Homo sapiens: one gene and its partner. The protein of the gene in region 1 purifies or fractionates together with the protein of each later gene. This does not show direct contact. Each region holds a gene or a part of one and is shown in the gene's direction. Other genes may lie near its edges.

The links. Proteins that work in one complex are often made in the same cells at the same time.
Region 2: the proteins of INSYN2A (region 1) and STAT2 purify together in Homo sapiens (affinity purification with mass spectrometry; 2 studies listed by BioGRID and IntAct, with this or other methods). This does not show direct contact.

The regions. Positions count from the first base shown.
Region 1 is NC_000010.11:127,141,088-127,144,737, reverse strand, and holds part of INSYN2A (inhibitory synaptic factor 2A), read left to right. Parts: intron 1-3,650. UniProt on the Homo sapiens protein: Component of the protein machinery at the inhibitory synapses, probably acting as a scaffold. Inhibitory synapses dampen neuronal activity through postsynaptic hyperpolarization.
Region 2 is NC_000012.12:56,343,108-56,346,757, reverse strand, and holds part of STAT2 (signal transducer and activator of transcription 2), read left to right. Parts: intron 1-133; coding exon 134-316; intron 317-554; coding exon 555-612; intron 613-2,622; coding exon 2,623-2,933; intron 2,934-3,226; coding exon 3,227-3,369; 3' UTR 3,370-3,650. UniProt on the Homo sapiens protein: Signal transducer and activator of transcription that mediates signaling by type I interferons (IFN-alpha and IFN-beta).

The DNA.
Region 1 (3,650 bases):
AGCCAGTTAACTACAAACCACTGATATTTTAAACTATTAGGATGAGATCCATATATATTTAATGTAGGTATATAATATAGAAATAGTATATAACAAATTCTATAGACAGAATAAATAGAATTATACAAATGTATAAATTTTAAATGAAAACAGAAAATAGGGCGGCAGCACTTTGCTGAGATTAGAAGTGAGGGGATTTGGTTCAGTTCATCAGTTTATTGTAATTCAACAAACAAATAGAGCAGGTTCAGAGCCAGCACTGTGCTAAATGCACTGCAGACAAAAGATGAATTAAACATGGTCCATCCTTCAATGAGTTCACAGACCTGGGGGAAGACAGCTACGATCCCACAGGAGACAGGCTCTCATGGAAACCTAGAGACAATGCTGCCAGAGCAGTAACTCATCCCAGAGGTGTGTGGATGAGGCAGGGGGGAGGGTGGACTTTGTTATTCTAGAAAATCCACAGAAAGAAGGAGTGACGTGTGACCTAGGTTTTGAAGGATAAGCAGGGATTTGAGAAGGAGTTTGCCAGTTTTCCTAAGGTGACTCTGGTAACTGGAGAGGGAGAGAATACAGAGAGTGAGGGAGACTAAGCTGTTTCAATGGCCAAGGAGGAAACTGCTGGAGTTCTGGACTAGAGCAGTGGAAGGTGGGCGGAGAGGAAGGACACCGGGTGTTCTGAGGGTAAATCCACTCGACCCAGGGATGCTGAGGCAGGAGGAGCAAGTTGAGCTTGATTCCAGGGTCTGCAGTCATCCAGGGAGATGAATGGGGGCTGCAGGCTGAGTCTGGAAGGACAGAGATGCAGGCTGGGGGAAAGATCTGGTTCTGGACATGCTGGATTTCCAGTGCCCCTCAGATATGCACACGGAGATGTGTTCAGAAGAGAACAACAAATATTTGGGGTCCTGGTTCTTCTATTGCCTGGCGAGGTGGCCAGGGTCACATCCATAAACCAAGGCCCAGAAAGGACTTGCCTGAATTCACCTCCCATGCAAGGGGGAGAGCCAGGCCTGGGATCCAGATCCCAACTTTTAGTTTCCTCTGGACAATGCTGGTGTTGCCCATGGCACTCACATAAAACCGGCCAAGTTGGCGCCAATGTCAGTTGACATAAATTGTTGTGCTTTGGGGACATGGCTGGTCCTACCCAAAGCTACACAATAAAAGCCAGCCCACATCCTGGTGCACCTGCCCTCCTGGGCCCAGGCCTTGTTCCAGGAGACTGCTGTGAGAAGTGGGAGCACATCTCAGCCATCACTTCACAGCCAAGCAAGCTCAGGTCCCCAAGGTGAGGTGATTTATCCACAGTGGTAGAGCCTGAGTCAGCACAGAGCCACGGTTAGCACTGGGGAAGACTCTGAGATCTAATTCAAAGAGAATTAAAGGCAGAGGCCTCTGACCTGCTGGCCACCGAGCCACATGGCCCTGTCGAGGCTAGAGACCCCAAAGACAAAGGGTTTTCTTCCCTTCCAGAAAGCAAGCTCCGGGGCACCAGATTGTCCTGCTTTTAACTCTTAACTGTTACACATGGACGACTGCAGAAGGCAACTTTAAAAATGTGTTCCTCTTAAATTATCTTGAGGATTCAGTGACAGCTTGCTAAAGAAACTGTGGCAGGGCCTGAGTATTTATAGGAGCATGAGACAAACAGAGAATAAGCTGGAGAAGCAAGAAGGATGCCGCTCTGCAAAATCACATGCGGCAGCGGGGAGAAGTGTTACTACAAAGCCTAGCACAGTCTCTGGGAAGAAAATAAAGCTTAGGTGCAGGCTGGAGAGCAGCCTGAGATGTAGGGCAGATTCTTCTTTCTTTGGAAATGTACAGAATAATCATGTTGTAAGAAAGTCCCCACACTTAAAACTTTCATTTTGAAAAGGGAAAGACCAACCAAGAAATTAAATCTACTCTCAGTTGCTTTAATCATGCATCACAGGGACTTGCCAAGAGCACAGCGAGGGCGACACAGCCCCAGGGCACAGAGTGTTTGGGTGGATGGTTCCCTTATCTGGAGGGAGAATGGAGGTGCAGGCAGCGAGAGGGCTACAAAGGTAAATCCCTACAGTCCCCAGGAATTCGTGTCTTGTCAATATCCCCAGCCATCCAGGGATCTTCCCTTCTCACCCAGCAAAATCTACAGCCTGTGTTTGACTCAGGTGTTTATAGGACAGAACACCCCGCACAGGTAAGGCTGGCCTGGCTCCAGCTGCTTCAGACTCATGCTTTGAATCTCAAGAATCAGGACTTTTTCCAGGCTGCTGCTCCTCCCCAGGAGTAAGAATTCCTCATGACATGGACACTCCCCTGCCCATGCTTTACAAACACCAGATCCCTCCAGCAGGAGGGCAGCAGCACCACCTGCAGCCTCCTGCCTCCTGAGCTGCTGGAGAGTGAGGCCTGGGAGGTTGCAAGGGGACTGTGCAAAGCCACAGCCAGAGTCCTCAGAAACCACAACAAGGTTTGGAGCCCCGGCTTCCCACGTGCCCGTGTGGCTGTAGAATGAGCCCCTGCACTGGAGCCGCCCTGGGAAAGCAGGTGCACACAGCACGTCTGGTGGCCTGGGACCGTGATGGTGCTCAGAACAAACATCACCCAGAAAACATCCAGCTAGACCTCCACCTGCTGTCCACAGGCAAGTGAAAAGGGGACAAAGTAACTCTCACGCTCCCCTTAGCACAGCGACTGTGGTAGCTGGTCACTCACAAGCAGACCCTGCTGGCCCCACCCATTCTATCCAAGATCTTACTGTAGAATCCTAGAAGACGGAAAGGAGGGGACCGTGGCATGGGAGCCAGGCTCCAAAAAGATCCTGGAGTATGTCTTGCAGAAAATGTTTCAGGATCTTCGATAAGTTCTGATAGAATAGAACCAGGCCACAGACTCCATCTGGAGTGGTTCTGACAATGCCTCCAGGCAGAGCCCTATTTGTCTGTGGCAAGGAAGGGGTCTCATTGTGGGAGGACACAGGGGAGGACACAACATAATTTTTGGCCAAAACAAAGCAGTCCAGGGCAACTGGGACTAAAAGTGAGGTAGAATTTGCTTTTTTTTTTTTTTTGTTTTAAAGACAAAGTCTCACTCTGTCACCCAGGGTGGAGTGCAGTGGCACGATCTCAACTCACTGCAACCTCCACCTCCCGAGTAGCTGGGATTACAGACATGCACCATCACACCCAGCTAAACTTTATATTTTTAGTACAGATGGGGTTTCACCATGTTGGCCAGACTGGTCTTGAACTCCTGATCTCAAGTGATCCGCCCACCTCGGCCTCCCAAAGTGCTAGGATTACAGGCATGAGCCACCGTGCCTGGCCAGAATTTGCCTTTTAAGACTCTGTTCTCATTCATTAATTCTAGCAATATTACGTAGGCAACTGCTAGGACCCAGCCCCTGCTATAGTTGCTGGAAACAGAAAGAGGATGACCGCATGGCATCTCTGATTATGGTGCCTGCATTCGAGAAGATGCATTTAGGAAGATGAAGGCAAGTAATATGGGAACGAATAATTATCTGTGGTTAGTGCAAAAACAAATAAGACAGGATGGATTGGGCAACATTTGGGAAGGTGGTCAGACAACAAGGAGGTTATGTGGACCTGAGAAACAGTGGGCCAAGGAATGCCAGCCATGCCATGAGCCCAGAAAGG
Region 2 (3,650 bases), on another chromosome or scaffold:
CCTCTGCCTGCCCTTGGCTTCCCTGGCTCTGAACTGAATCCCTCAGCTGGTTTGGGACTGGGCAGCCAGAGCAGAGAGCTCCAAGGCCCGGCCTCTTCCCTCAAGCCCGCCTGTTCCTGCATTCACTCTCCAGACAAGGTGCTCATCTACTCTGTGCAACCGTACACGAAGGAGGTGCTGCAGTCACTCCCGCTGACTGAAATCATCCGCCATTACCAGTTGCTCACTGAGGAGAATATACCTGAAAACCCACTGCGCTTCCTCTATCCCCGAATCCCCCGGGATGAAGCTTTTGGGTGCTACTACCAGGAGAAAGGTGGGAATCGTTGACATACTTCATTGCTAGATTGCAGAGATCTACCAGACATCCATAGATCCCACTCCTTCCTTTAAAGCATGGGAAAACTGATATCTAGAGGAATTAAGGGATTCGTCCATGGGATACTGCTGGTTACTATGGGGATGAGACTGCCAGGACCATCTGCACTAGGGGAACCTCAGGCTATATGTCTGGCCCACTGATCTTCTCTGCTTCTTGTATATGTTCCTCACAGTTAATCTCCAGGAACGGAGGAAATACCTGAAACACAGGCTCATTGTGGTCTCTAATAGGTGAGATATGAACTCTTCATTCATCCTCCCTAATCCTTTTTGGCTCTGCTTCAGTGAATCGTCAAAAGGGGGCATTACCTTCTCCTGGGTGGAGCACCAGGATGATGGTCAGCTGCTCTGCCCTGCCATTCCCACAGCCTCTCCTTTCTGCCTTCTCCTAAGCTGCCCTATTCCAGTCTCCCCAGCCTTCCCTCCCTCCTAGCCCACTCTAGTTTTTTCTGGTTCTAGTCTCTCCTATCTCATATTTTTCTGCTGCCATCCTTAGGTTGTCTCCACAGGGGTTTCTGGATAATAATGATCATAATCACTGGTGTTAATGGGTACCTACTTGATGCAAGCATGGAGCTTTTTTTTTTTCCAGACAGGGTTTTGTTCTGTCGCCCAGGCTGGAGTGCAGTGGTGTGATCCTGGCTCACTGCAGCCTCGACCTCCTGAGCTCAAGCAATACAGGCATGCATCACCAAACTCAGCTAATTTTTTTTGTATTTTTTGTAGAGATGGGGTCTTACCATGTTGCCCAGGCTGTTCTTGAACTCCTGGACTCAAGCAATCCACCCACCTTGGCCTCCCAAAATGCAGGGATTACAGGCGTGAGCCACCACACCCCGCATATATATATATTTTTTTTTTTTTTTTTTTTTTTTTTTTTTGAGACAGGGTCTCTGTTATCCAGGCTGGAGTGCAGTGGTATAATCATGACTCACTGCAGCCTTGACCTAGGGGTTGAAGCAATGCTCCTGCCTCAGCCTCCCAAGTAGCTGAGACTACAGGCACACGCCATCACACTCAATCACACTCAGCTAATTTTTTAAATTTTTTGTAGGGATGGGGTATCACTGTGTTGCCCAGGCTGGTCTTGAACTCCTGGCCTCAAGCAGTCTCCTGCCTTGGCCTCCCAAATTGCCGGGATTGTAGGAATGAGCCATGGCACTTGGCTGGGGATAGAATTTTTTTTTTTTTTTTTTTTTTTTTTGAGACAGTCTCACTCTCATTGCCCGGGCTGGAGTGCAGTGGTGCAATTTCAGCTCACTGCAACCTCTGCCTCCCAGGCTCAAGCAATTCTCCTGCCTCAGCCTACTGAGTAGCTGGGATTACAGGCGAGCGCCACCCATGCCTGGTTAATTTTTGTTTTTTTTTTGAGACAGAGTCTCGCCCTGTTGCCCAGGCTGGAGTGCAGTGGCACGATCTCAGCTCACTGCAACCTCTGCCTCCCAGGCTCAAGCAATTCTCCTGCCTCAGCCTCCTGAGTAGCTGGGACTACAAGCGCGCACAACCACCACACCTGGCTAATTTTTGTATTTTTAGTAGAGACAGGGTTTTACCATATTGGCCAGGCTGGTCTCAAACTCCTGACCTCATGATCCGCCCACCTTGGCCTCCCAAAGTGCTGGGATTACAGGCGTGAGCCTCTGCACCCGGCCTAACTTTTGTATTTTTAGTAGAAACAGGGTTTCACCATGTTGGCCAGGCTGGTCATGAGCTCCTGGCCTCAAGTGATCTGCCCGCCTCAGCCTCCCAAAGTGCTTGGATTACAGGTGTGAGCCACCATGCCTGGCCTGAGAGTTTATTATGCGCCAGGCACTAGGCTAAATGGTTTGCATTTATTTTCTCATTTTATTGAATCTACAAAATAGTCCTGTGAAGTAAACACTGTTACTGTTTTCAGCTAAGGAACTGGATTTAGAGTAGTCAAGTTTTGTACCTAAGGTACGTGGCTAATGATACAGGTCTGTTAGATTCCGTAGCCCTGATTTTAACCACCCTACTGCCTCTCAAGAATTACTAGGTATTGTTCTCATTTATAGATGATAAATCTGAGGCTCAGAAAAGTTAGGCCACTTGCCTAAGGTCCCCCAGCCAGGATTCAAACTCCAGGAGGCCTGATTCCAAACCCATGCTCTTTAGCCCTCCGCCCTACTGCCTTCTTAGACTAGCTTCTGCTTATTCTACCATTCCTGATTTCATTTGAACCACTGAGCCCTGCCCCTTTGTCTGTCTTTGGGTATCCAGACAGGTGGATGAACTGCAACAACCGCTGGAGCTTAAGCCAGAGCCAGAGCTGGAGTCATTAGAGCTGGAACTAGGGCTGGTGCCAGAGCCAGAGCTCAGCCTGGACTTAGAGCCACTGCTGAAGGCAGGGCTGGATCTGGGGCCAGAGCTAGAGTCTGTGCTGGAGTCCACTCTGGAGCCTGTGATAGAGCCCACACTATGCATGGTATCACAAACAGTGCCAGAGCCAGACCAAGGACCTGTATCACAGCCAGTGCCAGAGCCAGATTTGCCCTGTGATCTGAGACATTTGAACACTGAGCCAATGGAAAGTAAGTGATGAGATGGAGCTATGGAAGATGGCACACATTCCCTTTCCTACCTCTTCTCCCTCTCCCATTACAGAAAAAGCTGAACTCCAAGCTCCTCATTGGAGAGAGGTCCATTCTGTGATTCCTTTTTTTAGGAATTACACATGCCTTCCCCCACCTCCCTGCTCTTTCATCCCACAAGTTCCCACTCAGGCTCTTCCCAGGCCTTTCCTGCCATCCTCCCTCCCTTTCCCTGCTGGGTTGGGAACTCCTAACTAAGATCGGGGCCTCACTTTTCTCTCTGGATTACCTAGTCTTCAGAAACTGTGTAAAGATTGAAGAAATCATGCCGAATGGTGACCCACTGTTGGCTGGCCAGAACACCGTGGATGAGGTTTACGTCTCCCGCCCCAGCCACTTCTACACTGATGGACCCTTGATGCCTTCTGACTTCTAGGAACCACATTTCCTCTGTTCTTTTCATATCTCTTGCCCTTCCTACTCCTCATAGCATGATATTGTTCTCCAAGGATGGGAATCAGGCATGTGTCCCTTCCAAGCTGTGTTAACTGTTCAAACTCAGGCCTGTGTGACTCCATTGGGGTGAGAGGTGAAAGCATAACATGGGTACAGAGGGGACAACAATGAATCAGAACAGATGCTGAGCCATAGGTCTAAATAGGATCCTGGAGGCTGCCTGCTGTGCTGGGAGGTATAGGGGTCCTGGGGGCAGGCCAG